5 linked regions of the Homo sapiens genome follow. The protein of the gene in region 3 interacts with the protein of the main gene of each other region in a biochemical or structural test. Each region holds a gene or a part of one and is shown on either strand. Other genes may lie near its edges.

What was found.
Region 1: of the proteins of UBE2J1 (region 3) and MAPKAPK2, one has a biochemical effect on the other in vitro, tested with the Homo sapiens proteins (one study listed by BioGRID).
Region 2: the proteins of UBE2J1 (region 3) and BIRC2 form a complex in vitro, tested with the Homo sapiens proteins (one study listed by BioGRID).
Region 4: the proteins of UBE2J1 (region 3) and UBA1 form a complex in vitro, tested with the Homo sapiens proteins (2 studies listed by BioGRID, with this or other methods).
Region 5: the proteins of UBE2J1 (region 3) and RBX1 form a complex in vitro, tested with the Homo sapiens proteins (one study listed by BioGRID).

Annotation. Positions count from the first base shown.
Region 1 is NC_000001.11:206,686,379-206,692,808, reverse strand, and holds part of MAPKAPK2 (MAP kinase-activated protein kinase 2), read right to left. Parts: intron 1-6,430. UniProt on the Homo sapiens protein: Stress-activated serine/threonine-protein kinase involved in cytokine production, endocytosis, reorganization of the cytoskeleton, cell migration, cell cycle control, chromatin remodeling, DNA damage response and transcriptional regulation.
Region 2 is NC_000011.10:102,359,256-102,365,685, reverse strand, and holds part of BIRC2 (baculoviral IAP repeat-containing protein 2), read right to left. Parts: intron 2,791-6,430; coding exon 2,712-2,790; intron 2,019-2,711; coding exon 1,970-2,018; intron 1-1,969. UniProt on the Homo sapiens protein: Multi-functional protein which regulates not only caspases and apoptosis, but also modulates inflammatory signaling and immunity, mitogenic kinase signaling, and cell proliferation, as well as cell invasion and metastasis.
Region 3 is NC_000006.12:89,341,472-89,347,901, forward strand, and holds part of UBE2J1 (ubiquitin-conjugating enzyme E2 J1), read right to left. Parts: intron 2,286-6,430; coding exon 2,212-2,285; intron 985-2,211; coding exon 853-984; intron 1-852. UniProt on the Homo sapiens protein: Catalyzes the covalent attachment of ubiquitin to other proteins. Functions in the selective degradation of misfolded membrane proteins from the endoplasmic reticulum (ERAD) and is essential for cells to recover from ER stress.
Region 4 is NC_000023.11:47,200,329-47,205,394, reverse strand, and holds part of UBA1 (ubiquitin-like modifier-activating enzyme 1), read right to left. Parts: intron 4,502-5,066; coding exon 4,395-4,501; intron 4,120-4,394; coding exon 4,029-4,119; intron 3,918-4,028; coding exon 3,785-3,917; intron 3,240-3,784; coding exon 3,142-3,239; intron 3,038-3,141; coding exon 2,891-3,037; intron 2,758-2,890; coding exon 2,581-2,757; intron 2,453-2,580; coding exon 2,348-2,452; intron 2,262-2,347; coding exon 2,181-2,261; intron 1,855-2,180; coding exon 1,699-1,854; intron 1,128-1,698; exon of another isoform or gene 1-1,127. UniProt on the Homo sapiens protein: Catalyzes the first step in ubiquitin conjugation to mark cellular proteins for degradation through the ubiquitin-proteasome system.
Region 5 is NC_000022.11:40,963,052-40,969,481, forward strand, and holds part of RBX1 (E3 ubiquitin-protein ligase RBX1), read left to right. Parts: intron 1-995; coding exon 996-1,066; intron 1,067-4,747; coding exon 4,748-4,833; intron 4,834-6,430. UniProt on the Homo sapiens protein: E3 ubiquitin ligase component of multiple cullin-RING-based E3 ubiquitin-protein ligase (CRLs) complexes which mediate the ubiquitination and subsequent proteasomal degradation of target proteins, including proteins involved in cell cycle progression, signal transduction, transcription and transcription-coupled nucleotide excision repair.

The sequences.
Region 1 (6,430 bases), on a different chromosome or scaffold from region 3:
GGCCACAGAGATGCTTGGAAACGTCCCTCAAGAATAAGATGCCCTTTCATATGACCCTTTTGGAGGGCTCAGGTTCCCAGCAGAATGAGCGCACAGCTTGGCTGGTCTTGGAGGAGAACACCAGATACAAATATGGGCTGACCTTGGGGCCTTGTCCCAGCTCATTCTGGCACACAGAGGTGTTTACTGATCAGACAATAAAGACCCCAAGAACCTTTCACTGCCAGAGGCCCAGCCCAACTTTATGTCTCCTTCTACTGTGGCTTTCTTCCTCCTCCCACCAAACCTGATGGCCCAGCACACAGGACCCCACAGTCTAAACCTCCGGGGCTGAAACAGCTGCTCTAGCCTTGCATGGGCAGGAAGAGGAGGAAAGAGAACAGACATCACCAGGCAACCCCTTTTCCTCCTGCTTCCTTGGATTCCTGATATCTCTTCTTACTCAGCCTGGTCTGAGGGGCTGAGGGTCACCTGAATGTAAATCCTAATTTCCTCATCAGCTCTGTGAATCAGTCCCCAACTCTAACCTAAGAACAACCCCTAATCCATAACCATACCTTTGGTGAATTAGAAGGCACTCCTTTGAAAGAACCCAGCCACACACAAAGACAAAGCCAAGCAAGGAGACAGTGGCTGGACTTCAGCCTTCGCTTAGCTCCTCAACCAGATCCCTGTGCACAGGGAACAGCCTGCACCAGAAATCACAGTGGCCCTCAAATGCCCCATAACTTGAGAAAGGAATCTCAAACAGGGAATAGAGTTCCTCATCTCTACTTTGCACCACCACTACACTATGATTCTTCTGATTTTAAGGAAAGAGAAGATGCACACCCTGCTAAATTACGTAGTCTATCCTCTCTGCCGAGTCACCAGCATAGAACACTTTCTAAGTCTTCACACAAGAGAAGGAGCAGCTGGTCAGTGATGATTATTCATTAACTGGACACAGGCTGCCCTGGAGCCAGGCACTAAGCTTACGAAAGGGCATCTGTGCTGACCCAGATACTGCTGATGGTCAGACCCGGAGCAAGTCAGCAAGCTATCCTGCCTGCCCTCCACCTCTGGCCTGCAGCACCGCCTTCTACTGCCTCACCCTGCCGGTGCTCAGGAGCTGCTCGAGCCGACCCTCTGTGCAATGAGGCCTGGAAAGTTTAGCTGACCTATTCAAGGTCATGTAACTTGTTAGCAGCATACAAACACTGGAAGCTTTCTATTTATGTATGCACTTATTTTTGCTTTCTTATCTAGCACATAACCCATGGTAACAAGCTCATCTCTACATATCTATATCTGTGTATGTGTGTATATATATATATATATATATATCTTAAAATACAAAATACCAGTATTTTCCTAAAAACTAGAAAAGGTACACAGCAATCTGATTTGGGTTCTATAACTGCCATACGTTATTACACTGTCCAGTGACATGGCCCCTTCTCTTCACCAATGCCCCCATTTACAAGGTAACCCATGTGGAAAGATCCTAGCTGATGCGTTAGTGGAGCTCAGTTTTGCTCCACCAGGTCTACAGTCTTCTAGCAACCAAAAACCAAAGGGGCCCAGACCAAGAGCAGGTCCCAGGGAACCAGGTCTCAAGATGTGGCTCGGATGCTGACACCATGTAAGACCTTGGACATGCCACTGAACATTTCTGCACTAGGCCAGCTTCTTCCTCAGTGATGTGCAAGGAGTCAAGAAAGATGACCAGGGAGTGTGGGTTCTAAGTTACTATGAAGTGTGGGTTGCTTTGCCACTGGGCCTCAAACCATTACCAAGAAAAGCTGCAGTCCCTGCAAAGAACAACTCTTCTCTGCCCATCCACCTCCCTCCAGGACACAGAACCATCTGGAAAGATACAGTGCAGGGAAGAGGGGGAAAAGAGACCTCACATGACACTTGGCAGGGCCTGAAGTAGAGGAAAGGTAGGAGAATAGAGTGAATCCTGCACCACAGACATCACGCCACCAGGAAGAACCCCAGCTCAGAGCATGGCAAGGCTGCTTGGGAACTGGGCAATGGCTCAGATGCAGACGACTGTGCCCTGCTCTTCCCCATCTTGGCTGACATTCCTCCTGGCACCCACTCAGCACACTCCTGGGCTCTGGCTAACAGGAGCTTTGGCCCCTCCCCTAGCCCAAGGATTAAGTTTGCCTCCAGCAGTTCTGAGGCTGGGCTCTTCCAGGCCCTCCTCCCAATCCCCTGTACCTGCTTCATAAGAAAAATCATCAATTATGGATGGCCCAACCTCTCAGGTCCCAAGTAGCAGAAACATCACAGGTCCCAATACCTTCCTCCTCCCACAAAGGGGTTCTTTTGTTTCCTAGACACCCACCAATATTTGGCCCTAAGGCCCAGGGACTGCTTGTCTCTCCCCTCCTGTCAGCCACTGATCCCGTATCTTAGCTGGAGATTGTCTCCAAGCTCAGTCAAAGCCCAGAATTCACAAGTAAAAAAGGACAGTGAGCTGACCCAGCTTCAATCTTGCCTCAGTGGATGCCAAGGGCCCTGCTGCAGGAGCCAGGGGTCAGGGCTGGGGTCAGGGCTACGGCCAGGAGGGACAGGATCTCTGAAACCACAAACCTGACCCTTCCCTCATAATTCTGTAAGCCCATCTTCAATGATTCCTAACCTTTTTTGACACCTTCATGCCCCTCAAACACTTTAAAGCCTGCTTTGACACAAGATGAGTTAGCTTCAATTTGGAGCCACCAACCCCTGACCACTCTGACCTCCTGTTCCTCCCCTCAGTTCTAGCCAGGCCAATGTCACCACACCTCTCACAGACTTGCTCACTCCTCAGAGGCACAGCCATGTCCCACTGACCCCAGCTGGAGCCTCCCTTAGCTCCTGGAGTCACCACAGATTCCCCTCTTTCAAAGCTCCTCTATTCCCAGCCACACGATTTAGCTCCCAGACCAACAAAGTCTAGGAGAACGTTCTGCAAGGATGAAAATGTTCTTCTGCATTGTTCAATTCGATAGCCATTAGCCACATGTTTACTGAACACTTGAAGTGTGGCTAGCAACTGATTTTTCAAATTTAATTTAGTTTAATCCATTCATGTTAATTAATTTTAATTTAATTAGCTATGTGAGGGTAGTGGCTACCAGATTGGACAGTGCAGCCCTAGCCTACATGTGTTAATTTCACCTTCTCTAAATAAGTTTCTTGACTCAAAATTTTACAGGCCATTTTTTACATGTGTATCCTCCATGCAACTAAGCTTATGATAGATATTCAGCAAACTGTTACCTACCTGTAACCATATTGCATATAAAAGAGGCTGGCTTGGTCAATGAAATTTTCCTAACCTTGTGACAACTCCAGCAAACTCCAGTTTGGGACACTGCCTCTCACCTAGCCACACTAACTGTCTTGCCCTCCACAGGTACACAGTATGAGGTGTGTTGGAAAGGAGATGGTGCCTGTACTGTGGGGATGTGGGAGCTCTGGCATTTCCCTCCAACAGCATCCAGAATAATCATGAGAGGCTCCAATCATCTCCCCTTCACCAGAACAAAGGAAGCCACATCGCAGTGGCACTTCCATGACCTAGGGAGAGAGGAATGCTGGAGAAAGGAAAGGAAAAGAAACTACAGGACCTTGTTTTCTCTAATCCACGCAATGGAAAGATACACAGAGATAAGTTACGACAACATTCTATATTTTATAAAGCAGTAACATGCTTCACCTAATCAGAGTTGCACAGCAGAGAACAACGATACAGTCTTTAATTAAATTTGTTGAGCTAACACCTAAGGGTCACCATGACACAGTGAAGCGGCAAGCAGCTGAGGAACCCTCCCGGGGAATACAACTAATTAATACACAAGTGGGTTGAGACTAGGTGTCCTTATCAAAGAAGTAATACAGGCCGGGCGCGGTAGCTCACACCTGTAATCCCAGCACTTAGGCAGGCTGAGGCAGGCAGATCACGAGGTCAGGAGATCAAGACCATCCTGAATAACACAGTGAAACCCCATCTCTACTAAAAATACAAAAAATTAGCCGGGCATGGTGACGGGCGCCTGTAGTCCCAGCTACTCAGGAGGCTGAGGCAGAATGGCGTGGACCTGGGAAGCAGAGCTTGCAGTGAGCCAAGATCGTGCTACTGCACTCTAACCTGGGCGACAGAGCAACACTCTGTCTCAAAAAAAATAAAAATAAAAATAATAGAATTCCCATGTTCTTGTACAAAAAATAGTAAGTAAGGTGCCTATCAAATACTCTCTTAAAAGGGGGAGGGAGTGGTTAAAAAAATGCATGAAGCTACTGTTGAAGTTCCCCTCCAACTTTGGGGACTGTTCTCAGGAGCAGCAAATACCCATCCAGCCCCCTTCGCTGACCTCCCCTCTTGTCAGTCAGGGCCTGAGGTGACAGAACAGCTCCTCAGGCTGGAAGCACCCTGGAGCAGCAGGTGGCCATGTGCCTGAGCCCGTGGCTCAGTTAGGAAGTAAGTGGGAAGAAGCCTGAGACTGGGAGTCAGGCAACCTGGGTTCCAATCCTGCCTCTGCCAAGTGAATGGCTATGGTACCTTGAACAAGTCACTCCCTCACTCTGGGCCTTGGTTTTCTCTTCTGCAAAATAAGGGGGCTGGACAAAATGACCTTTCAAGTCCCTTGCAACTCTGACTGGAAGCATGACTCAGAACTTAGCAAAAGCAGCCAGGAGAGATGGTGAGGTGAGGTCAAAGCACCCACCAAAAGCATTTAAATGGGAGCTCTCTGAGGTGGAGGGAGAGAAGCAGCAGGGTGAGCTGGGACTCTTTTTCAAATGCTGATTTCACTTAACAGGGCTAAGAGGTCACCGACTATAGGCAGAGAGGAGAGCATCTAAGCAGCTGCCAGCTCCCATCAACTCTCAGGGCTGCAACATAGCAGACTTCTGAACCCCAGCAGAGGCTGGGCTCCTGCCCTCCAGCTCTGCCCTAGCCCCCAGCATTGGCCTCGGCACACTGTAGAATAGAGGTCTCCTCCCCTTTTCTCAGGCACCTTCCCAAGGGGGTAATCCCTCTTGCCCCACTCCATCTTCCTCTCCTGCTTTATAATCACTAGACTTCTGGTTTTGAAAACCATTTCACTACTCAGCACCTGAGGTTAATCAAAATTCAAGATCTAGAAATCTCTTTGGTGTGTGTCTCTGGAACAGCGTTCTTTGAACCAGATTCCCCCCACAGCTGTAATTATGTCTCAGCCAATATTTGGATATGGAAGTGCTGTTAACACTGCTGTCAGTCTCCAAATGCCTTGTCTCTCCTTTCTTCCTCCATTATTAAGTTTTAACACAAAGACGTGTGTGGGAAATCCACAATTTAACAGTTGAGTCAACTTAAAAGATCTGGGAGCAGGCTGCCTGTCAAAACAGACTGACTTCACTCTTCGCCCACTTCTAACCTGAGAGGGATAAACTATGAGTGTTATTTAACACGCTGCTGGATTTTTCCTTCCAAAACTATTCAAAGTAGAAAAATATGTAAACCTCTCTCTCGTTAGTTACAAGAGAAATCTGAATTGCCACTCAAAAGCATTTTATAGGATGATTTTGTGCGTGTGTCTATTAAACAGAATACAGAGCAGAAGTTGGGAGCTTTTGTTCTGAAGTCTTTACATAATATTCCAAATATCCAAGAGAATGAACAGCCAGTGTCCCCAAACTACTAATGGGTGAAGGCAGATGGTGTCTCAGAGGGGACAGCAAACACTCCTGTAAAGACCGTCTGTCACTTCCTCAATGATACAGGTTAACTGTGGTCAAACTGTATTCACCCAACTCCAGTCCCCAAGGTCAGAGCCATGCTCAATCCAAACAACTCCTCCTCCTCCTTTCCCTTCAGTTATGAGTAGGGAAAGAGAAGTCTAAGACACAAATGTTGAAGTGTTGAAGATACTTATCCCCTCTCCAACAGTCAACACTAAACAACAACCGAGATCCCAGAGCAATAACTTACAGTAGAAAGCAAAGCACTGTAACAGGGTTGAGTATGAGAGCAGCAGGAAAACAATTCTAGAGGCCTTAAAATCTAGAAATGGAACATGCTTGCCCCGTACAACCCCGAAGTACTGGTGTTTCTTTTAAAACATCTGATCGTATATTCCAATAGTTCCACCCATACCACATTTCTGAGTTTTGTACTTGACAACTGAAATACAGCTCGCTGTGGGGGCTGAAGGGGAAGAGAAAAATATAACACAGGAAGTATTTTTCTCCTCCTCCAATCATTGAGACACCCCAGGGGAAACAGACCTGAGGCGTCACCTTTAGAGATTGGTTTGACCTGAAACCCCTGTGAGAGGAAAACCTTGTTGGTGACCCTGCAAGACCGGCTCACACTTCACTGCGGACCCACCCATCTCATGAGACCTCCCAGTCCATTGTGTTTAACTTCTGAAGTCGATATTCTCACTTGAATCCTTATTCTCCCCACCAC
Region 2 (6,430 bases), on a different chromosome or scaffold from region 3:
AGAATCACCTGAGCCAGGGAAGTTAAGGCTGCAGTGAGCCATGATGGCACCTAACCACACTACAGCCTGGGTGACAAAGTGAGACCTTGTTTCACAAAAAGAAAAAACAACGACAAAGCACCCAGTGATTATCAAATGCTAATTAACAGGTCAAGTAGTGGATTTGCTAACACGGCAGTCCCTGGTTACCATGACAAGAACAGTTTCTAGCAGAACAAGTGAAAGAATGAAAGGTGAGGAAGTAAAACAGAGTTAAGCACAGATAAATCTTCCTAGGTATTTTGTTGTAAAGGGAAGCAGAGTAATAAGGTAATAGCTGAATGGGGACATTCATTCATGGAAATTTTCCTAGGATTAGCAAAAGTACATTATGTTTATATGCTAACATGAGTGATTCAGGAGAGGTGGAAAAATTGAAGACTCGAGAGAAAGGGTATGTCACTGCCAAAGTAACCTTCTTAAGTTGACAGTAGGGGATGGAATACAGAGGACAAGTAGAAGTAATGGCCTTAGAAAAGGGCAAGGACAATTCATCTTTTATGAACAAACAGAAAAGTACAAGGATAAATTATGTAGCCTAGTGGTTTTGCTGGTGAGGCAATAAAGCAGCTCTCTTTTGGATTCTATTTTCTTAGGGAAGCAAGATTATAAACTGACAGTAAGGTGGGAAGAGAGTGTTAGAAAATTATCAAGACAGAAAACAAGAAACAGTCATTTTAAAGATTGACAAAGTGATTTTATTAGGACCTATGGTAGAACTGCAGGGCAGCCTACTTAATAGCAGTGGTTATAAATTTTAAGAACAGCCCACACTGCTATCTATCTTTTCTAGGTCTATTACACGGGAGATAGTTGTCATGTACCCAGGTACTCTCCTTCCTATTTTCCAGTACTCTCCTTCCTATTTTCCAGTCAAATACTACCAAATCCTTCATCCAATCCTCCTGAGCCATGGTTTCTAAGACTCATACATCTTGGTCACCTTTCTCTGGTCCAGTTAACAAATCTGCCAATCTTTCTTGAAATGCTGTGCCACAAACAGAATGGCCCTTTGTAGATGTGATTGGCACATAAAACGGGATTACTACCTTAGCCATTTTAGACACAATAACATATGTATATTACATAAATTGACAGATGTGGCTAACATTAAGCTCTAATCAAAAGCTATACTATTTCCTGCCCTTGCACTGAAATACAACATACCTGACTTAAATACCTAACATCTAGTCCAATTCTTGAATCATATGTGAATTGACGTTTTCCAAATCATGCCAACTCACAGCAAACTCTTCTTTTCTGGAGGGTTTATTATTTGCACCGCTTATTTGGCATTGCTTTGAACTATTTTTTGTTTTTCTTTTGCTTATGTCTCATTTCTCCAGTTGGAATGTCAGCACTAAAAGTGATAAGTATAGCACTAGAACAAAAACTAGTACACTTTTAGGGTCCTCCACAGTGTCATTACACTCTCTCTCTCTCTCTCTCTCTCTCTCTCTGTGTGTGTGTGTATATATATATATATATATATATATATATATATATAATATTTATTAGCTGACTTCCCAGTATTTTTCCCTATGGCTTCAGAAACTCTTTTAAAAAATACATACTTTCATTCCTACCTTTTTTTTTGGAGATGGAGTTTCGCTCTGTTGCCCAGGATGGAGTGCAATGGCATAATCTCAGTTCACTGCAACCTCCACCTCCTGGGTTCAAGCAATTCTCCTGCCTCAGCCTCCCGAGTAGCTGAGACTACAGGCACATCACACCCGGCTAAGTTTTGTATTTTTAGTAGATGGAGTTTTACTATGTTGGCCAGGCTGGTCTCGAACTCCTGACCTCAGGTGATCTGTCAACCTCGGCCTCTCAAAGTGTTGGGATTACAGGCATGAGCCACTGCACCCAGCCTATTCCTAAAATTCTTATAAAAATTTACACTCTATACTTAAAATTATCTCATACATACTTGGTGGGTCAGCATTTTCTTCTCCAGTGGTATCTGAAGTTGACAACAGCTATGAAACAAGAGAAAAGTTAATAGGTAAAAGCAGATATCCCCAACAATCTGAAAAGAACAACACTAAAATAAGCTTACTTTAAGTAAATGTATATGTTCTTTTGAGAACTGAGTGATTTATGACCTTTGCTTTGCTTTCTTTTACCCTAATCACATAGATTTCCTTAAATTTCATGTCATCCCAAATTAGAAATCAAGTATTTCTCTAGTTTCAGGAAAGTAGAAAAATGTATCAGTGGTTTCTCATTTCATTTGGAAAATAAGATTTTAACTGGGTTACTCTCCAAGGGTCTCAGCTCCTAACAAGTTATTTTTTGTTTGTTTTTCTGGAAAACAGCAAAGAGACACTAAAGATCCTTCTCCAATCCCATCACAAATTTGTACAGTGGCAGCATAAATGATTTTTCAAAATAGTAAAAACAAAAAAACAATCTTTTTTAAAAAGCCCTCAAAAATCAAGTTGGTTACAAAAGTAAAAACCAAAGATGTCATTAACATGGATGAAAGTATGTACCTACAATTAATAAAAGAGAAATAAGCATAACTTCTAATATAGGTTGGTACAAAAGTGATCACGGTTTTGGCCATGACTTTCAATGGCAAAAATCATGATCACTTTTATACCAACCTAATAATATTTTTGTTATTATAAAGCAGAATTCAATGTTGTTAATTTTAAAAATGTATTTACCTGTTCAAGAAGATGAGGATATCTACCTTGAATCTCATCAACAAACTCTTGGCCTTTCATTCGTATCAAGAACTCACACCTAAAACATATGAGGAAAATTATTTTTTAAAATTGTTTCATATCAAATATAACCTGATCATTCTAGAAAAATGGCTTTCAAATCTTTCATTGTACTCCATAGTAAAAACATTTTACGTCACAACCCAGAACACATACATATCTAACAGGAACAAAATTATCATAAAACAATATACATCCTTCTGTGTGTTATATATCACGGTATTTTCTAATTCAATCCATTAACACAACAACAAAAAGAAAAGCGTCTGCACCTACAAAGGGGAACAAGTTGACTCCTGAAGAACACTATTATACACAATCTATTTTGTGCTTAAAGTGAACTACTTAACAGTTTCAGATACTATTAACTCAGTATTCCTAAAATGTGATCTTTCACAATACAATAACTGCTCATTTTTCTTCAATGTTCACTCTTCCATTACATTTGAGCCAGAATCCACTACCTTCCCTCCAAAAAATATGGAATCAAATATTTTTATCTATATATAATATGACAGTGTTTCTCAAATATTTGTTTTTAAACTGATAGGGCTTCTCAAAGATGTTCCAAGAAGTTCACATACCATCTATATCTATTCTATTCCTTTTGTTTCTTCAATAAATGATACTATACAACAGAATATTCATATGTTAAAAAAAAGGAACACTGACCTATGCCCATATTATATGCAAAAATAGTAAAAATGGATCATATACCTAAATATAAAACCAAAAACAATAAAACTTCTAGGAAAAAGCCTTGTCTTTATTTGTCTTTACATTGGGTAAAGAATTATTAGACAAAAGACCAAAAACATATTCCACAAAAGATAAAATTGATAAATTGACATCATCAAAATTGAAAACATCTGCTCTTCAAAAGACAATGTTAAAGAAATGAAAAGCCGCAGACTGAAAGTTTGCAAGAGTGACATCAGCAAGACAGCAGACTAGGAGACATCAGCCTTCTTCCACCCACAAAAAACAACAAACAGACAGCTATACACAAATACAGCTCTGGAAGAACTCACTAGCCCAATCAGCCTACAGCAATAAAGGGAAAAAAAAAAAAAAGGGAGAATAACCACACAGAAAGGACTGCTGGGAGATCTGCTTAGCAGAGACATCTGGAGATGGCTAAGAACAAGGGGTGAGGGCTACCTGTATCAGTCATGTGGTGAGTGCCATTACAGTCCTCAGTGGCAAAGACTGCTAGGCTCCTCCCCAGAGCAGGTCCCTGGAGACCTCCAATAACCCTCAAGATAGCCACAGACTTCCTGCAGGTTTCACAGTGAAGGACCCTATAGTGTTCATTGATGCCAACCCCAGTAGCCTACTTTGCAGAGGACACTGACAGCTTTCACCATTAAGGTAACCAGCACCCATTGCTGCTGTGAACCCCCTGGAGAGGGAGACACTACTGCACTCCTCACCCTGAAAAAAAGCAGCTCTTGCACTGCCCAGACAGTGCAGCCCCTAACCCCCACATATGCCCCAGACCCCAGAGCCACAGCTGCTTCACATGTACCTTCATGTAAGACCTTTGCTCTGTGGCTGCTCTAATCACACACTCTCCAGATCCCAGCTCTCTGGCTGCTCTGCACACCTGCACTCCGCACCCAACTCAAAGGCTGCTCTACGTGCACCCACATCTGAGGCACTAGAAGCACCACTGCTGCAGGCTAGTCAACATCCTGAACCCAAGACCCGCTGTCTTTCTGCAAACACTTGCACTCCAAACCTTGGCTCTGTAGCTGCTCCACAGGTGTCCACGCCATCAGAGACATCAGTGCTGCCACCTCCACCAACACAACAAGCCCAAAGCCAGAACCTGTGCCAAGAAGAATCCCCTTGGCCACAATGTCTCCCATGGGAGAAAAAGTGATGAAGAGGTCCCCAGCAGCCTCTGCCACTATAGACTAAAAAAAGCCTTGCTGCTGGTATGGATACCTGCAGCCTTGGATGTTGAGGACCCCTGCAATCCTCACTGACAATGATCTGGGCTAATGGAGCTGCATGGAGTTCACAATGCTGGGCCTTCCACAGAGCCAGAACCACCACACCTACTGGCTGGCGCCCTCACCCTCACCCTCACCCACAGGCAAAGATCTTTGCCCACAAAAAAAAAAACAAAAAAAACACACTAATCTGTAATGTCTAGAAGTAATTCGTCCATCAAATACACAGATAACACAAGGCCACAAGAAACAGAAAGAAAAAAAAAAAAAGAAACGTGACATTAGCAAAGAAACTCAGTAATTTTCCAGTAATCACCCACAAAGAAATGGAGATCTATGAACTAACAGATAAAGAATTCAAAATAATTGTTTCAAGCAAACTCAGTGAGCTACAAAAGAACACAGATAATGAAATAAAAAAATATATACAAACAAATGAGAAATTCAACACAGAGATAGGAATAATAAAAAGAAACAAATTCGGGAGCTGAAGAACATAACAACAAAAAATGCAATAGAGAGCATCAATAGCAGACCTGATCAAGCAGAAGAACCTGTGAACTCAAAGGCAGATCATGTGAAATTATCTAGTCAGAGGAGAAAAAAAGAAAAAAAAAAGAATAGTGGAGAAAGCCTACCTGAATTATAGGACACCATCAAGCAAAACAATATTTGCATTTTAAGAATTCAAGGCCAGGCACGATGGCTCACACCTGTAATCCAGCACTTTGGGAGGTTGAGGCGGGTGGATCACATGAAGTCAGGGGTTCAAGACCAGCCTGGCCAACATGGCAAAACCCCGTCTCTACTAAAAATACAAAAATTAGCTGGGCATGGTGGTGCACACCTGTAGTCCCAGCTACGTGGGAGGCTGAGGCAGGAGAATCACTTGAACCTGGGAGGTGGAGGTTGCAGTGAGCTGAGATCATGCCACTGCACTCCAGCCTGGGTGACAGAACAAGACACCATCAAAAAAAAAAACCCAAGAAAATGAAAAACAAACCCGAGAATTCAAGAAGGAAAAGAGAGAAAGGACAGAAAGCTGATTTAAAAAAAAAATGCTGAAAACTTCATAAATCTAGGGAAAGATATCCAGGTACAGGAAGTTCATAGGACCCCATAAAGATTCAACCCAAAGAAGACTTCACTGACACACATTATAATGAACTGGCAAAAATAGAAGATGAAAGAGAATTTTAAAACTGTAACAGAAAAGAAACTCATCTTCTACAAGAGAAACCCTATAAGACCACAAGTGGATTTCTCTGCAAAAACCTTGTAGGCCAGGAGAGAGTTGGATGATATATTCAAAGTGCTGAAAGACAAAACTACCAGACAAGAATATGTATCCCAGCAAAGCTGTCCTTCAGAAATGAAAGAGATATAAACAGTCCCAGACAAACAAAAGCTGAGGGAGTTTATCACCACTGGACGCGCCTTACAAGAAACGCTGAAGAGTTCTCCAAGCTGAAATGAAAGGACACTAATTAGCAACATGGAAACATATGAAAGTATGAAACTCACTGTTAAGATAAATATATAATCAAATTAATAATATACTAAATTTGTAATGGTCATGTGTAAATTACTTAATTCTAAAATACAGGTTTTTAAAAAAAAGTATTAAAAATAACTATAGCTTCAATAATTTTTTCATGAATACACAATATAAAATGCAAATAATGACATCAAAAACATAAA
Region 3 (6,430 bases):
GACACCTGTCATCCTAGCACTTTGGGAGGCTGAGATGGGAGGACTGCCTGAGGCCAGTAGTTCAAGACCAATGAGACCATGTCTCTACCAAAAAACTTTTTAATTAGCTGGGTGCAGTGGCATGTGCCTATAGTCCCAGCTACTCAGGAGGCTGAGGTGGGAGGATAGCTTGAGCCCAGGAGTTTGAGGCTACAGTGAGCTATGATCGTGCTACTGCGCTCCAGCCTGGGCAACAGAGAAAGACCGTGTCTCTTAAAAAAAAAAAAAAGTTTTCCTTCACATGAAGAAAAGATGTGTAAATTTGGAGAGAAAGAGAGAAAATCTGAGATATAAACAGTAATAATAATGCTAACACTTATTGAGTATTCTGTGTCAGGCTCTATTCTAAGAGCTATACAATAAGATCTTGATACTTTTCATCCCACATAAACTCAATGAGGTAGGTATCATTATTCTCATTGTAAAGATGAGAAAACTGAGGAAGAGAGTGTAAGAAAGGTGGGAAGTTAAAGGAGACAATATGATTACAAGGTACAATAACATTAGCTACCCTTTAGTGAGTACTTATGAAGTGCCAGATGTGTATGCCCAGCACTTGGCATATATTAATTCATTGAATCCTAACAACCATGATATGACATTTATGCATTCAGTTGTATCATTTTTACTTCTCAGATGCATCAGCTTCCTAGGAATTATTTTGGAGGAAAAAAATTGTAGTCCCAGGGCCTGGACCCCAAAAGCAAAATTATACTGTTCTATTATTTCTTAATGAAAATGATTTGCTTACTATATTTTGCAGCTACCAGGAAGAGTGAAGCCACAAGCACTCTAAAAATCCAAAATTCTTACCGTTAGGAGAATAATGCTTGGTGGTTTCATGGGATACTCTGGTGGCAGTACTATCCGCCCGTGATAAACTCCTCCATCAAAATCGGAGTCTGGGGGCCCTCTAACCGTGAAGTGCCATTCAAAAAGGTTATCCTGAACAAAAACAATAATCCACAAGGAATTAATAATATTGAAAAGTTTGATCATTTTATCTGAATATTAGAAATATTACCAAGCAAGAAAAATTAAATGCTTTATATTATTGCTAGTATAGTTTCTAATGCATGAGATGTCTCGAGACTATAAGTGATAAATTAAATTTATAAGTAAAAGCTATTTAATCTAGCTTTCATGTTCCATTGAGCTAAAATATTTTATAATAAACACATTAAAAATTTCTGAGTGTTGTTATATATTCATAAGTAACTTACAGGTTTAAATTGGAAATTAATCCTTGAAAGAATAGCAAATTATGATAATTATATAATCAAAAAATTACTATGTTTGGGTTATTTTAACAAATCTTTAAAAATTATCCCTTATAGATGCCTAAGAGCTTATTTATAAAATGGTAATACTAATGTATTTAATGTCATCTTACAGTTACCATGTACTTTTCAGTTTACAAAATACTTGCACTTAAGTTATGATATTTTTATTCCCACTGTTACCATGAAAACCTGCCTGGGTATATTTAAATACCCTCCTTTTACAAATGAGAAGACTGAGAGAGGCCGAGATGTTTATACAAAAAGCCTTGAGTAGCTACGGAGACCCATCAAAAGGCTTCCAAACTGTAAAGTATCTGGGGTTCTTTCCACCTCCCCTCCCTCAGACTCAAGATCTAACCTCGGCCGGGTGCAGTGGCTCACGCCTGTAATCCCAGCACTTTGGGAGGCCAAGGCGGGTGGATCACGAGGTCAGGAGTTTGAGACCAGCCTGACCAACATGGTGAAACCCTGTCTCTACTAAAAATACAAAAATTAGCCGGGCGTGGTGGTGGGGGCCTGTAATCCCAGCTATTCAGGAGGCTGAGGCAGGAGAATTGCTTGAACCTGGGAGGTAGAGGTTGCAGTGAGCCGAGATCACATCACTGCACTCCAGCCTGGGCAACACAGTGAGACTCCGCCTCAAAAAAAAAAAAAAAAAAAAAAAGATCTAACCTCAACTTAGCATCTGAGACCCATTTTATAAAGACCACAAAATCCGTTTCTTCTAAAGTGATTTGGAATGGCTAATGAAATATTCATGAAATATGGTGAATAAAACGTCAAACTACATCACACACATCTGTAATGACTCAAAGCAATGAAAAGCAATTTTAAAAAATTTGTTTTAAATATTAAAATCCATATGAAGAACATGGAGATAGAAACTAACCTCTAAAGGCTGCGCATGGTAATGATCTGTTGGATCTTTCAATTCTGCCGCTTCTTTCATTAAACGTTTAACAGCTAAAATAAAATTCATAAAATAGAGATATTTAAAATATACTTTTCTGAATGATTAGCACAGTCTTACGAGCCTAATGAAAAAATGTGTAGAGAACTAGTGCAAATGAGCATATGGCAAAGGTTTAATTATAAGATTATGGGAATAAATAGAGGGGGAGAGGAAGGAAACAGTTGCTAGGCATTAACACTTTAAAAGAGTTATATATTAAATATATAGTGAAGACACTATTTTTATTTAATAAGTACTTATATATACTTCCTATATGGTGGTATTTATTGAAGTGCTTTTACAGACATTAATAACTCATTTAACCCTTAATACAACATTACTAGATAGGTATTATTTTTATCCCCATTTTCCAGATGAAGAAGCCGAGACACGGAGAGATTATATAGTCACACAGCTAGTAAATGACAGAGATGGGATTCCAACACAGGCAATTTGGCTCTACCTGTTAAAATGTCTTTATTAACAAAAAATGTATTCTCTGGATCTCATGCTCGGTGAACAGGAAACACCTCTATATCCTCCAACTCTTGGGACTTTCCATCCACTATCTTGCATTAAATGAATGGACTGTCCCCTGAATTCACTGACTCTCCAAAGCCCCGATGAAATTCCTTCTTGAAATGATCCTTCAGCTTCACTAAAACCTCCAGTCCACTGACCCCACAACTTTCTTCACCCCTCCTATACTTATATTCATTTTCCTCTTTATCCACACCCTTGGCTCTTAGGAGTCCCTCTTGTACACTCCCTTAATAAAATCCAACTGTGCCTGACCCAACCCAACCATCTTATTTGCTGTCTATACCCAAACAGCTGAGCATCACTGAAAGGAGGAAAAAAAGTCAGAGAGGATGGTGCAGTAATGCCATTACAAGTCATTACCAACAACCTCTACTGGGATACAATGCCACCTAATGTCCCCACATTTCTCTAGTAGGCCTTCCAGCCTACTCTTTCCACCTAGCACTCCAAGATTATTTCCCACCTAGTCTAATTTCTCCTCTCTTTCAGTTAATGGCACCCAGCTTTTTATCTCCCTGATGAATGACTGCTAGCAGGAGCTGCTCAGATGCCTATCACAATCTACAATCCTATCTGTATCTGCACCCTCTGTCTTCTATTGGCTCTCAAAATTCAATCCTTTGATATGCACTCTGGATCCCAACCCCTCTCATTTCAAGCTTTTGGTGCTAAAACATGTCAGGATACTGCAGTGGGATGGCTGAGTTAGGGAAAAGGCTTCTCAAAACTGGGTTTGCAACCACTGATGTAGCTCAAAAGAGAGGTATGCACCAGATGCTGGGAGGACAGGCTGGGCATCTAACTTTAGAGCAAATGGAAGAGAAAAGGAGTCAGGTACTGAATGTGAAAGAAATAACAGTAGAAACTCCCCAGGTAGATATGAATAGGAAGAGGTAATAATAAAAGTAAAATGTGTAGAGGCACAGGTTGGAATGTTATGGGGAGAGAGATTAACTGAGAAGGAACCCCTACATGTATATAACCACAATGGTTTGGTATGTATCAAGACTTTTGCATAAAATTGCATTTGAGGCCAGGCGTGGTGGCTCATGCCTGTAATCCTAGCACTTTGGGAGACCGAGGCGAGTGGATCACCTGAGGTCAAGAGTTCGAGACTAGCCTGGCCAACATGGTGAAACCCTGTCTCTACTAAAAATACAAAAATTAGCCAGGCATGGTGGCGGACGCCTGTAATCCCAGCTACTCGGGAGGCTGAGGCAGGAGAATCGCTTGCACCCAGGAGGTGGAGGTTGCAGTGAGCTGAGGTCGTGCCATTGCACTCCAGCCTGGGCTTCAGAGAGAGACTATCTCAATAAAACAAACAAACAAACAAACAAAACCAGGCACGGTGGCTTAGGCCTGTAATCCCAGCACTTTGGGAGGCCGAGGCAGGTGGATCACCTGAGGTCAGGAGTTTGAAACCAGCCTGACCAGCATAGTGAAACCCCATCTCTACTAAAAATACAAAATTAGCCTGGTGTGATGGCACATGCCTATAATCCCAGCTACTAGGGAGGCTGAGGCAGGAGAATCGCTTAAACCCAGGAAGTGGAGGCTGCAGTGAGCTGAGATCGTGCTGTTGCACTCCAGCCTGGGCAACAAGAGCGAAACTACGTCTAAAAAAAAAAAAAAAAGCCCTCCAGGCCGGAGGGCAGTGGTACGAACACAGCTCACTCACTGAAGCCTCAACCTCCCAAGCTCATGCAGTCCTCCCACCTTGGCCTCCCCAATAGCTGAGACCACAGGCATGCACCACCATGCCTGGCTAATTTTTAAATTTTTTGTAGAGCTGGGGTCCCCCTGTCTTGCCCAGGCTGGTCTCGGGCAATCCTCCTACCTCAGCCTTCCAAAGTGCTGAGATTACAGGCGGGAATCAGCATGCCTGGCCAAAAAAAAGTTGTTACTATCCTACTTCACAATTATTAATATTCTTTTCCATTTCTTACTCTGAACTAAGCCCCTATATGCAGAGACTTTGTTCACTGGATCATCAACTATTTCTTGAGTTCCTACTAGGTACTAGATGCTACAGCTTCATGCGTAAACAAAATATGGCTTTGGTCACTAAAGACTGACGGCTGGGAGGTGCAGTCAATACAAAACAGAATGATAAATGCTATATTAGAAATATGTACATACTGAGACACCCTCTCCCTCCAAGTCTAGAGACTGGGCTTTGGTCAATTCCCTGAACACACTTTACCTCCCCTCCACTCTCAGCCTTTCTATACAGCTTTCCTCAGGGCCCAGGCTGCTCCGGCCCCATCCTCCGCCTCACCGTCTAGTCTGGCTACCCTAGACCTTTAAGTAACTTCTCAGGAATGTCTCTATGACACCTTCCCTGGTTGCCCCCTGCCCCCCACCCCCTACAGTGCTTGGAGATTTCAATCTGGGCAGATCAAAATCTCTGAGGCGTCCTAGGGAGGGGTAGAGACTAGGAATGCTCTCTGAATTACTCTGGTTAGGTTTAGAAACCACTGCCCTAGAGACCAGGTTGAGTCTCCTTGCTCTATGCCATCATAACACTGTATTTTTCCTCTTATGAAGTTCATCTCACTTGTAATTACTTGTTTAATATCTGTTTTTCCTGCTAAGCAATAGTAATGACAGTGTAGCTGTAGCAGTACAGTCTCCTCAGGGCTTAGCACATGGTAAGTACTCAAATATTAGTTGAATTAAATTTTACTATCTTCTCTCAACATAGCTCTCAGAATCCGATTAAAGGCAATGGTTTTTAAACTTACTTAATAAAACAATTAAACTTATTTAATAAAACAAAATCCTTCATTCAAAGAAAGCTTAATGAGAACCCCAACAGGTGAAACAAAAACCACAGAGCCGCTTTGGTTGCAGAGGCCAGTGGAAGGGCCTGCGGACTATCTACTCCCTGTCCTTCCATTTCACTCCTGAAGGGACCCATAGAACAAAGATGGAAAACCCTGCTTTAAAGCCACATAAACATATCATTCCTTTAAGTTAATATTATTAGATAGAAATGCAATTATGGAAGCTGTTATGAAGTTAATTAGTTTGGAGATGCCAAAAAGATTGTTTTTCCTTCATTCCTCGTCAACTGGCTGAACTCAATAATGATTAAGCTGAAGTCAGATTTTATGTCATTCTATACCCTTATCGCATTTTCTCTGCCTCTTCCCTACTCAGTTCAGTTCAACAGGAGAGAAGAAAATAAACACTCAAAACTTGTACCTGGATATTATGAGAGATGTATAAAGGGTCAGAATTGTTATAAGAATGTATCTGTACCAATCCTGTAAAGGAACAATCATTGGTTCAACAGCTAAATAGCTAATTAGTTCATAAGTCACTCAGGCACATACCATGTAAGAGCTAAGGTCATGTAGCCAAAAGGTGAGATTAGTCTCTTGTTTCCATAAGCTATTTTTTTTGCAAAAATAACATATATTATGAATGCTTCAGTGAAAAGAAACAGGGACTCGATTTAGAGCTGCATTAAAATTCTGACTCTGACATTTTGTAGCTCTAAGTCCTTGAACAAGTCACTTGATCTGATGTTTACATCTGTCAAATAAGAGTCAATAATTTCTCCACAAAATTCTCCTTTCCTTTTCACCCCTCCTTCCTGCCCAGTCCC
Region 4 (5,066 bases), on a different chromosome or scaffold from region 3:
GGCCAGACATCTGTTCTTTCGTCTAACACCTGCTATTTTTTCAGGTAACAGCACCCAGGATTGATGCAGACTCCCCCAACCACCACCAGGATGCTGGCACACAGACAAGCAGGATCCTTTCAAAGCCCAAATTGGGCCACGTCCCTCCTCTGCTCAGAATCCTCCCCTGGATCCCACCTCCACTTACCGTAAAATGAGTTGGCTCCCTGACCCCTCCCACCTCAGGATCTTTGCGCAGGCTCTTCCACAGCAGAGGGCACTCTAGTCCCTCATATCCTTGAGGTCTTTGCAGAACTCAGGCCTTCCTTAACCATTGTCATCAATACTACAAACCATTCTCCCTGACACCCCGACTTCCCTTGTCTGGTTTTAGTTGTTTCCTTTGAGGAGCACTCATCACCAACATTAACTATATACCTCACGATCGTATTGTGTCTATTGTTTGCTGTCCGTTCCCCTCTCCCTCCAGGAATCTTGTTTTATTCCTTGGTATATCCCCAATACCTAAAACAGTACTAAAACTATCTGGTGAATAAATGAAATAAATGAAAGGGGGAATAAATCCTGGGTAAGCAAAAACGACACTGCTCCTTACAGAAAGCTTCTCAGAGAACCCTGCATAACCAACCCAGTTTCCATATGTGCAGAGAAGTGTAAGCCTAGGAGACTGAAACTACAACCCTTGGAAAGGCCTGCTTCCAAGGTCGGCTCCTTGGCTGGTGTCTGGGAACTTGGAATTCAGGAAGGTTCCCACCGCTCCCTACCTGGTATCAGTGGTTCACTGTGCCTAAACCGTTCATGCAAACAATACAGTTTACGCTGAACACCTTTCCTTCTGGGAGTCTGGAAATTTTGTTATGTGCCAGGAAGGGGGCGCCTACATGACCAGCCCCAAGTAAAAGAGGTGGTGCTGAGTCTAACAAGCTTCCCTGGTTGGCAACATTTCATGTCTTGTTACACCTTGTTGCTGTTATTTCTGTAGTTACTGTTGCTACTGGGGAAATAAAGGCCGCCTTGTTTAACTCCCGCTGGGAGAAGACTCCTAGAAACTTGCACCAGCCTTTTCCCTTTGCTGATTTTGGTCTGTATCCTTTTGCTGTAATAAATTGTAGCCACAAGCACGACTATATGCTGAGTCCTGTAAGTACTCTAGGTGAATTGAGCTTGAGAGTAGTTTTGAGGACCCCAGACACACTGTCCCAACCAGCACTAAAAAGAGGTTAAGGCAAAAAAAAAAAAAAAAAAAAAAAAAAAACAGAAGCTGAGGGAAAGAAAGGCCAAAAAGAAGGGCTTCTGGCAGAGGCAGAAAGATCTCTGACAGAAAGAATGGGAACAAGAAAAAGGAGGGGTGAGGTGTGGTGGCTCACGCCTGTAATACCAACACTTTGGGAGGCTGAAGCAGGCAGATCACCTGAGGTCGGGAATTCGAGACCAGCCTGACCAACATGGAGAAACCCTGTCTCTACTTAAAATGCAAAATCAGCCGGGCGTGGTGGCGCATGCCTGTAGTCCCAGCTACTCAGGAGGCTGAGGCAGGAGAATCGCTTGAACCCAGGAGGCAGAGGTTGTGGTGGGCCAGAGATCACGCCACTGCACTACAGCCTGGGCAACAAGAGCGAAACTCCGTCTCAAAAAAAAAAAAAAAAAGAAAAAGGAGGAAAGTGAGACGACAAAGCCCCAACCTCCTACCCTACTCACCGTGACATCCCAGGGCCGGAAAAGAAACTGTCGATTCAGATTTGACTTCTCAATGGTGTCCATGTCTGTAACGATGATTTCTCCACCCTCCCCGCAGCCCAGCCCAATCATGGCAAAGTTCTTGAGCAGCTCACAGCCAATGGCCCCCGCACCCACCTAAGAAGCAACCAAGAAGACAGGCAGAGGCTGGTCAGGGTGATGCAGGTTAGTGTGAAGCTACCCATCACCCCTCACTCCCCTGAGAGACGGGGAGAGGGGCTAACACCACATCTTCAGGTTGCAGGACTCTAAGAAATGACACGCAGTCATGTGAGGAAGGAGGCACCAGAAGGGGAAACGAGGGATGCACTGGGCTTCCCTTCAAGATAAGGAGAATGGCAAAGAGAATGCGCCACCGGTTGCATTGAGATGCCGAAGGAAGCCCCAGGGGTGATGGCCAGAGGCCAAGATGAGGGGAGCAGACATCCAAGGGGACCACTTACCAGGAAATACTTCTGCTTGCCCAGCTTCTCTTGCAGGTCTGAGCCAAACACAGCCACTTGCCCGTCATAACGGTTCTGGCGCTAAGGAATGCAAAGGGAGGAGGGTTAGAGAGGCCTCCCCAGAAATGTCCCCAATGATGCCCTCCCCACAGGTCCCACCCACATACCTGGAGGCACTTGTCCTCTGTGAGGACCTCTTTGTCCTCAGGGAGACACTCAAGGGCATCAAAGTATAGCCACTGCATGATGGGCATGAACTTCCCGGAGCAGGCCTGGAGAGGGGAAGGGAGAGAGGGGGTGGTCAGTGGTTAACAGGGGCCTGACACAGACAGAGAGCAAGTGACAGAGTCATGGAGGAACCTGGCCCACCCCAATCCTGCCTCTCCCCACCCGTGCTGACCTTCATGACTTCCTGGGCAGCCAGGCCCCCAATGAAGGCGTTTATGGGTGCCAGATCCCCAGCAGCCACATATGCCAGCTTCCGGATGAGGTCCTCGTCCAGGTTATTTTGCTGCACTGCTGGCAGGGCTCGAGCATTCACAGCCTGTGCTAAGGCTACCAGTTCTGCTGCATCCTCCTGGTGGGCCAGAAAGAACCAAGAGAGGATATGTCAGGCCACAGTGAGGGCAGGGAGTGTGGACACGCAGAGAGGCATGGTGAGCCTGCAGTGCCAGGCATGTCTGCGCTGGCTGGCTCGCCCACTCACCCACCTCATTGCGGGGCCGAGGTGGCCGGCCATGCTGAGCACAGAACTGGTGCAGGGCCTGGAAGCCAATGTGCAGCTGGGCAGGGCGAGAAAACTTGGCGAAGTCCGTCACCACAAAGTCAGGTTCTGCCAGTGAGGCCACCAAGGATTTCTGTGGCGGGGGGAGAGGTCATCAGAACCAGAAGAGAGGAATGGAGAACTAGGGAATGCCTAGAACCACCCCCCACAGCCCACTGATCCCATCGACACACTCACAAAGCTAATCTTCTTAGGTACTTTGACCTGACTGACGATGCCTCCACGGATGTAGTCGGAGAAGTTGGAGGTGTCACAGATGCTAAAGGTATAAGGACCTACAGAGGGCAGGAAGAGAGCTGTCAGTCTACCCATTCTCCCTAAAATCCACAACCCCTGCAAGATAAGGAACCTCCTGCCCCGACTCAGCTCAGACATCAGAAGCTGTCTTCCCTCAGCTCCAGGCTCCACTTGGACATCAGAAACCATCTCTCCTGTGCCCCAGACTCAGCTCAGACCCCGTGAGACCCTGTGTCCCTGGCTCCAAGTCTACACGGGAAGACCTTCTCTGCTTCCCATCCAAATCAGCTCACACACAAGTAGATCCGCTGATCTGCCCTGTTCAAACACCAGAGACTTTTTCCCCACTCAGCTCAGATACCAGGGACACATTCTCCCAGGAATAGCTCAAACACAGTACCTCTCCCCCATGCCCACCAGCTCTTATTGGACCCCACAGGATTGTCTGTAGTTCATCTCAAACACCAGGATGTGTCTTCCCAACTCTGAACCAAGGGCCATGTCTTCTCCCTTCAACTCCCCGGCCAGAACCCAGGAACATATCTTCTAGTTCCCCTCTGCTTCCCCCATGGTCGCAGCTCACCCAGGACTTTGATCTCCATGGGCTGATTTCCGTTGAGTTCAACCATGCCCTGTACTTCTGAAAAGGAGACAAAGTCCCCGCTCTCAAACCCGTGTCGGGCCTCATCCAGGCAGGTAACCACACCGGGGTTGTCCTGGTTAAAGGAAGAGTGAGTCTCAGAAACAGGCCCAGGGTACCAAGAGCAGACAGGAAGGACTACTGCAGCCCACCTGCCTGCCAGGAACCCTAGGGCTGGTCTCCTTACCTTGGTAACCATAGAAACCATAGCACTGAGTGGCTGCTCCCCATTGGAATCTGTGAGGATCATTTCCTCTCCAAAGTCACAGAAGAGCTGCCTGTAGAGGGAAGCAATAGGGCTGGTGCCTGTGTCCCATGCACATACAGGTCCCACGGGTCCCTCAAGATGTAGTGAAAACTTGCTGAGCAAACTCAGCCTATCACTGCTGGGATGTAAGATGGTACTTGTGCCACATGGGGAGAGATGAAAACACAGAACCCAAAACCTGGGTAGCTGAGAAGGGATGAGGGCAGGGAGAGCCTAGAGTCTTGGCCTGGGCTTGGTAGGAGTTGGGGGAAAAGGGGACAGGGAGGGAGGTGGGCTGCCACTCACCCAAACAGGCCCCGCGTGTCTGCCACCACCAGCTTGATGCCACGGTTGTGACAGAACTCACCCACTCGCAGCTGGTCCTCCAGGGGGGTGTTGGTGAGCACCACCACCTGTGGAGAGATGGAGGCTCAGGCCCAGCATTGGGGTGAAGGGGAAAAAATGGAGGGCTGGTGTGGAGGACTCAGGCAGTCCTCAAGGCAAACACATCCAGGCTTTGCTGGGTCAGCCTCTTTCACAAACACATAGCACCTACTGTGTATCAGACTCTGTGGGGGTCGAAAATGAACCCCTGGACTATACCAGGAAAGGTGAAGAGGTAGCTGGGAGGAGGGAGTTTGGAGAAGAGCTGACTCATTTATTTGACAAACACCCGCTGCTGTCTGTCTGCCATGCCCTGTGAGACACTGGAGTAAAACTCTGTCTCCAGCCAAAGTCTGAGCTCACTCCTACCACACCCACCTGCTTCCAATTCTCAAGACGACGCCTGCTCCGCCATGATCTTTGGGATTTTGCTCTCTGCCTGAATGTCCATCCTTCCCCACCAGGGTGAGCTCCTACTCCTCCATCAGGATTTAGCTGCAGTGCCCTGGCAACCTGGGATACTCCAGGGACAACTCTCAGCTTCCAGAGCACCTCTTTCCGGCCTGGACTTTTTAATTAACAAACACCCATCCA
Region 5 (6,430 bases), on a different chromosome or scaffold from region 3:
GGCTAGTCTTGAACTCCTGACCTCGTGATCCGCCTGCCTCAGCCTCCCAAAGTGCTGGGATTACAGGTGTGAGCCACCACGCCCAGCCATAGTTTTACTATTTTTCACCTGTAGTAGTTTGAAGTAATTCTCCCCTATTAAATAGTTTCTCCTGAAGCTTTTTATTCTTCAGAAGGGAGACTCCATTTAGTTACTATGATCAGAGAAAGCAAGTTATGCATTAGTAATTCTTGTTCTGTGAATATTTATCCCCAGTTGTGCTTTACCCATCAGATCTTGATCTCAGTCAAGAACTCATTGCAGGCCAGGTGCGGTGGCTCATGCCTGTAATCCCAGCACTTTGGGAGGCTGAGGTGGGCGGATCACCTGAGGTCAGGAGTTTGAGACCAGCCTGGCCAACACGGAGAAACCCCATCTCTACTAAAAATACAAAATTAGCCAGGCATGGTGGTGTGCGCCTGTTAATTCCAGCTACTTGGGAGTCTGAGACACGAGAATCGCTTGAACTCGGGGGGCGGAGGTTGCAGTGAGCCAAGATTGTGCTATTGCACTTCAGCCTGGGCAACAAGAGGGAAACTCCATCTCAAAAGGAAAAAAACTCAGTCTAGGCAACATGGTGAAACTCCATCTCTACAAAAAATACAAACAATTAGCTGGTGTGGTGGCACGCACCTGTAGTCCCAGCTACTCAGGAGGCTGAGGGAGAATCACCTAAGCCCAGGAAGTCAAGGCTGCAGTGAGCCATGCTCATGCCACTGCACTGTAGCCTGGGCAACGGGAGTGAGATGTGCATTTCCCATTTGTTACTCTTTTTAAACAAGGATAGGAAATCGTCAGAAAGCATACTGTTATCTCTGTCTTCTCTGTTCTTCCTTTCCCACATTCATTAAAAAACAATTATGGCTAATTAACCACTTGAGAATTGTTTTGGCTGCTATAGATTGAAACGTTGCTGCTCCCAAGGTCCAGTGATCCTGTTGCTCTTGTTCCCACAGGCATAGAATGTCAAGCTAACCAGGCGTCCGCTACTTCAGAAGAGTGTACTGTCGCATGGGGAGTCTGTAACGTAAGGAAGCATCTTTACCTGTCAGCATGGCTTGTAAACATATTTCCACTTTTCCTGCTTTGCTAGTCTTGAAAATAACTAGGGAAAAAAATGACTAGTCCACCTTTCTCCCAAAAGGTATACAAATAGTAAAAAAGATTTTAAATCATAATACTATTCACCTGTTACAGGGTAAAAATTACAGTTACTGCAAAGAGGCACTTATTTGTCTTAATTATAAAGTGGACCCAATTTTGTTAGCAGTATTTTGGGGCTTCATCTATGGGAATTGCCTTCAAAACCTACATGCACCCTTTGGAATATTCTCGTGGTAGAACTTTGTACCTTTGAAACAGGCTTTTTTAAAGACCAGGTGTCTAATGGAACTAAGTTTGATGAGTAAATTGAGTGTTGAAGTCTCTGTGTATGTGTGTTTTAAGTGTGGCGTATGTACTGAGATAAGATTATTTTTTAACATGGCTTATGCCAGAAATGTTTTGTGTAGCTTTATTGGACTGAATGGCCTTCCAAGAGTGTGACAGCTGTGAAGGATAACAAATATCAAATATGTTAGTTCTAGCATGTGTTAAAAATTCATTCTTTAAGCTGTAAAGTCCCAGTCACATGAGCTAAAATTGTCTTGTCAGGGCCTCCTGTGTCATGGGGACAGAATACTCACAGTTCCCAGCATGACACAGGGATAAGAGATTCTAGAGTCAGACCACCATTCCCTGTCTTTGTGACTTACTTGCTAAGTGACGTTAGGCAAGGCATTTAACGTCTCCAATCCTGGGTTCCCTCATAAAATGGGGCTGATAGTGGACCACATAAAATTGTAATCCGGATTAGATGATTTATGTTAAAATGTGATTAAACAACTCCCGGCACATAGTAAGCACAAGTGCTTGTTAAAAAAAATCTAAATAGGCCGGACGCGGTGGCTCACGCCTGTAATCCCAGCACTCTGGGAGGCCGAGGCGGGTGCATCATGAGGTCAGCAGATGGAGACATCCTGGCTAACACAGTGAAACCCCGTCTCTACTAAAAATACAAAAAATTAGCCGGGTGTGGTGGCAGGCGCCTGTAGTCCCAGCTACTCGGGAGGCTGAGGCAGGAGAATGGCGTGAACCTGGGAGGTGGAGCTTGTAGTGAGCCGAGACCACACCACTGCACTCCAGCCTGGGTGACAAAGTGAGACTCTGTCTCAAAAAAAAAAAAATCTAAATAAATACAAATTTGAGGTAGAGGTGTTACTGTGTAGATGGTGTTCTCAGTAGTTTTTCCTGTTGGGTTGCAACTCTTTTTCCTACCTACACTGGTTTTTTGTTTTTTTTTTTGTTTTTTGTTTTTTGTTTTTTTTTTGAGACGGAGTCTCACTATGTGGCCCAGGCTGGAGCGCAGTGACGCAGTCCCGGCTTACTGCAACCTTTATCTCCTGGGTTCAAGTGATTGTCCTGCTTCAGCCTTCCGAGTAGCTGGGATTACAGGTGTGTACCACCACACCCAGCTAATTTTTGTATTTTTAGTAGAGATGGGGTTTCGCCATGTTGGCCAGGCTGGTCTTAAACTCCTGACCTTGGGGCGATCTGCCAGCCTCGGCCTCCCAAAGTGCTGGGATTACAGGCGTGAGCCACCGTGCCCAGCCCCTACCCGCACTTTCGGGTACACCTTCTTCCATCTTTGTTGGGACCCTTTGGCCAGGCTCACAATAGACCATGTTGGCCATGGGGGAGCTTTAATCGTTCATGGGGATAAAGGAAGTATATTGGGCTCTTTGCCCTTTCTGGCATACAGACATATACTAAGAACCATGTTCCTTTATGTGGAAAGAAAAGAGAGTGAACATCCCCTTAAATTTGGCTAAGGAGAGATTCTCTGAGAGAGCCTGCCGTAGAAGAGAGCCAGCATGGTGTGGCAGAAGGCTCTGGATTAGTCCTGGGTTCTAGTTCTGGGTCTTCTACAAACCAGCTCCATGAATTAGGCAAGTCACTTGTCTGGGTTTCAGTTTCCTGTCTGTAAAATGAAGATAAAAATATCTGTCATGCTTGCCTGCCAGGGTTGATGTGAGGCCTCAAATGAGGTAATACATGTCAACATCTTCTGTAAACTGTCAAGTACTATAAATTTATCTTCTGTAAATTGTACTTTGACCGCTAAATATATCCATTAATACATCTTAGTAAATGTTCAGGGGTGCTGTCACCTCCCTGACACCTCCTTTACAGCCCCCTTTTCCCCAGCGCGTGGTATGCTCTGACTTAGTTGGGCTCTACCAGGACACCGTACTGCTGCAAAGTGCTCAGTGGGTGAGGTGGGAGAGGGAGAAGCTGTCGAATACCCTTCGGTGAGCCCGACCCCAACACCTGATGGTTAAGAAAAATGTCTCTGCTTTCTGCCTTTTGGAAATTTTGCTCTTTCTCTTTTTCACAGTGAGTTATACAAGAGTCAGCTGAAAAGGGATCTTCCAAAAGGCTGTCACTCTAAGAGAATATTTGTCCTCTTGGGTATCCCTAGTGTACTAGCTGTGGATTCCACTCTTAGTTACTGAATTATATTTTTGTCTTTGTCAAAAAACATTTCACAAGATAATAATCCATATTATATAATCCCTTAAGTTCCATACATACTTTGGGAGACGTACCGACCAGATTTCAGTTGTTATTAAATGAAGCTTGTAAAGCTTTTGTTGTTTTGTTAGGGTGAGTAATTTCTGCCCGTGCCCCACCACAGTGCACCAATCACAGACGAAATGAAGGAAGCACTTGCTGCGTCTGTCCTAATACGCACATGAGCAGGGGGAGAAGTGCTCATTGCAGAAGCATTGTGATTAGCATCTGCATGTCATGAGCCCACGCCAAAAAACTGCATGCAGATTGTCCTTTTCCCAAATCTAAGCAGACTTCTAGCTCCCTGTCAGTTACCAGTGTTCTTGATACTCTTGTCTTTTTACTTCTTGTCTTGATTATGAAATAAGCCTTTTGATGCTCTTTAGGCTGCTTGTGTGCCGTTTGTCCCTCATAAGAATACTTCCTTTTACCCCAATTTTCTTTTATCTCATTCCCTAAGACAAAGTCCCTCACCCATTAAAGGCACGTGAAGTACTGAGCTCTTGTAATATCAATATGTCTGTGAATAAATCTAGAAATAAAGTTTCTTTGACCAGAGCTGAGCTGGGTGTGGGGAGGTTGGGGAAGTGCCCGTCTCAGTTCTGGGTGGGCGGCAGTGACCATGCACTTCTCTACCAAGGGCTGGGGAGAAGGCTCTGCTCCTACAGGTCGCATTCTCCAGGGGCAGGAGGGTGGGAGGGAAGCTAGAGACCCAGAATGGGGATATTTGAAATCTGCATTGATGAGGGGCCTCCTTTCCCAAAGAAAGTGGAAGTATCCCCTTACAGGCTGAATGGGACCAAGGAGCCACATTCCACGTTCTCTTAAATAGAAGAGAGCTCAGTGCTGGCACATACTCCTGTGCTTCCTGAATGATTTCCTTTAGTAGTAATGACATTTCTAACAAATGCTTTGTTGGAAATACCCTTGCATCTAACCAAGATATAATCAGTTGTTGAACTTTTGCCTCTCGTTGTCTTCTTTTCTTTTCTTGCCCACTATATGTCACCCATGCCACTACCCTGTGGGACCTGTTGTCGCTCGATGGCTGAGCCTGCATAGAGTTATTTTTAATAAAATATATGTTTTCTTTCAGCATGCTTTTCACTTCCACTGCATCTCTCGCTGGCTCAAAACACGACAGGTGTGTCCATTGGACAACAGAGAGTGGGAATTCCAAAAGTAGGTATCTTTGGTTGTTTTGACGGGGCTTTTTGACTTGCCTCAGGCTGAAAGGAGCGTGGTCTTGGGGGATGGAGACATGATACATGCCTTGTTTTTTTTAAAACTAGTTTTTGGTTACTTAAGCTAGGACTTATCTATATGGAAAATGCACAAAGGATTAGCCAACATTAGACATTTGCAGCCTAGGGTTTCCCAACCTTTTTTTTTTTTTTTTTTTTTTTGAGACGGAGTCTCGCTTTGTTGCCCAGGCTGGAGTGCAGTGGTGCTATCTTGGCTCACTGCAACGTCCACCTCCCAGATTCAAGCGATCCTCCCACCTCAGCCTAGCAAGTGGCTGGGATTACAAGTGTGTGCCACCATGCACAGCTAATTTTTGTATTTTTCGTAGAGATTGGGTTTCACCATGTTGGCCAGGCTGGTCTTGAACTCCTGATCTCAACTGATCTGCCTGCCTCGGTCTCCCAAAGTGCTGGGATTACAGGTGTGAGCCACCGTGCCCGGCAGGTTTCCCAACCTTCTACGGTCTGTGAAAGTAGAAAATGTGATAATCTATGAACTCTTAAATATTTCCAGAATTACATCCTAATGAGGCTCCATGGACTACCTAATGTCAGGTAGCTTTGGGCTAGACTTGTATCCACTTATCATATTTCACTGGTTTATTTCACAGTGATTAATTCTGATATAGCATTTATGGCTATCCTGATTAGATTTTATTGTTATATAAATAAAACATGACCTGGTAAACTTTTAAAAATTTAAATGGTTGAAAGGGTATACCACAGAATATGAATTTCCCACTGTAGGCCCCTGCTCCGGCTTGCTGGAGCTAGCCATCAGCAACAGGACAGCTTCTTAGGAGATTTTCTGACTATCTCTTATATGTCCCGGTATTTACATGGTTGTGTGTATATATATATTTTTGTTAACATAAAAGTGAGTATCCTATACAGTAATTCACCTTTTTTTTTTTTTTCATTTTGTACATTTTGGAGATTTTCCATTTCCACAAATAACAAACTACCTCATTTCTAATGGTTGCAGAGTATTTCTTTATGTAAATGTACCTTAACTTTTTTCTTTTCTTTTTTTATTTGTTTGCATGTTTTTAACATTTTTTATATTTTTTAAAAAGTCAGTCCCTGGCCAGGCACGGTGGCTCACGCCTGTAATCCCAGCACTTTGGGAGGCCGAGGCAGGCGGATCACCTGAGGTTGGGTGTTCAAGGCCAGCCTGGCCAACATGGAGAAACCCCGTCTCTACTAAAAATGCAAAATCAGCTGGGCGTGGGGGCACATACCTGTAATCCCAGCTACTTGGGAGGCTGAGGCAGGAGAATACTTGAACCCAGGAGGCGGAGATTGTGGTGGGCTGAGATCGCACCATCGCACTCCAACAAGAGCGAAACTCCATCTCAAAAAACAAAGTCAGTCCCTATTGGTGGACATTTGTGTTTCCAGTTTTTCACTGATGCAAGCAATGTGAAGGGAGAAACATCCTTATACATGAAGCTTTGTGTAAATGTGTAGCTGTATCTGGAGCAGTAATTCCTAAAAGAGGAATTTATGGGTAAAGAGTATGGCTGGGCTTGGTG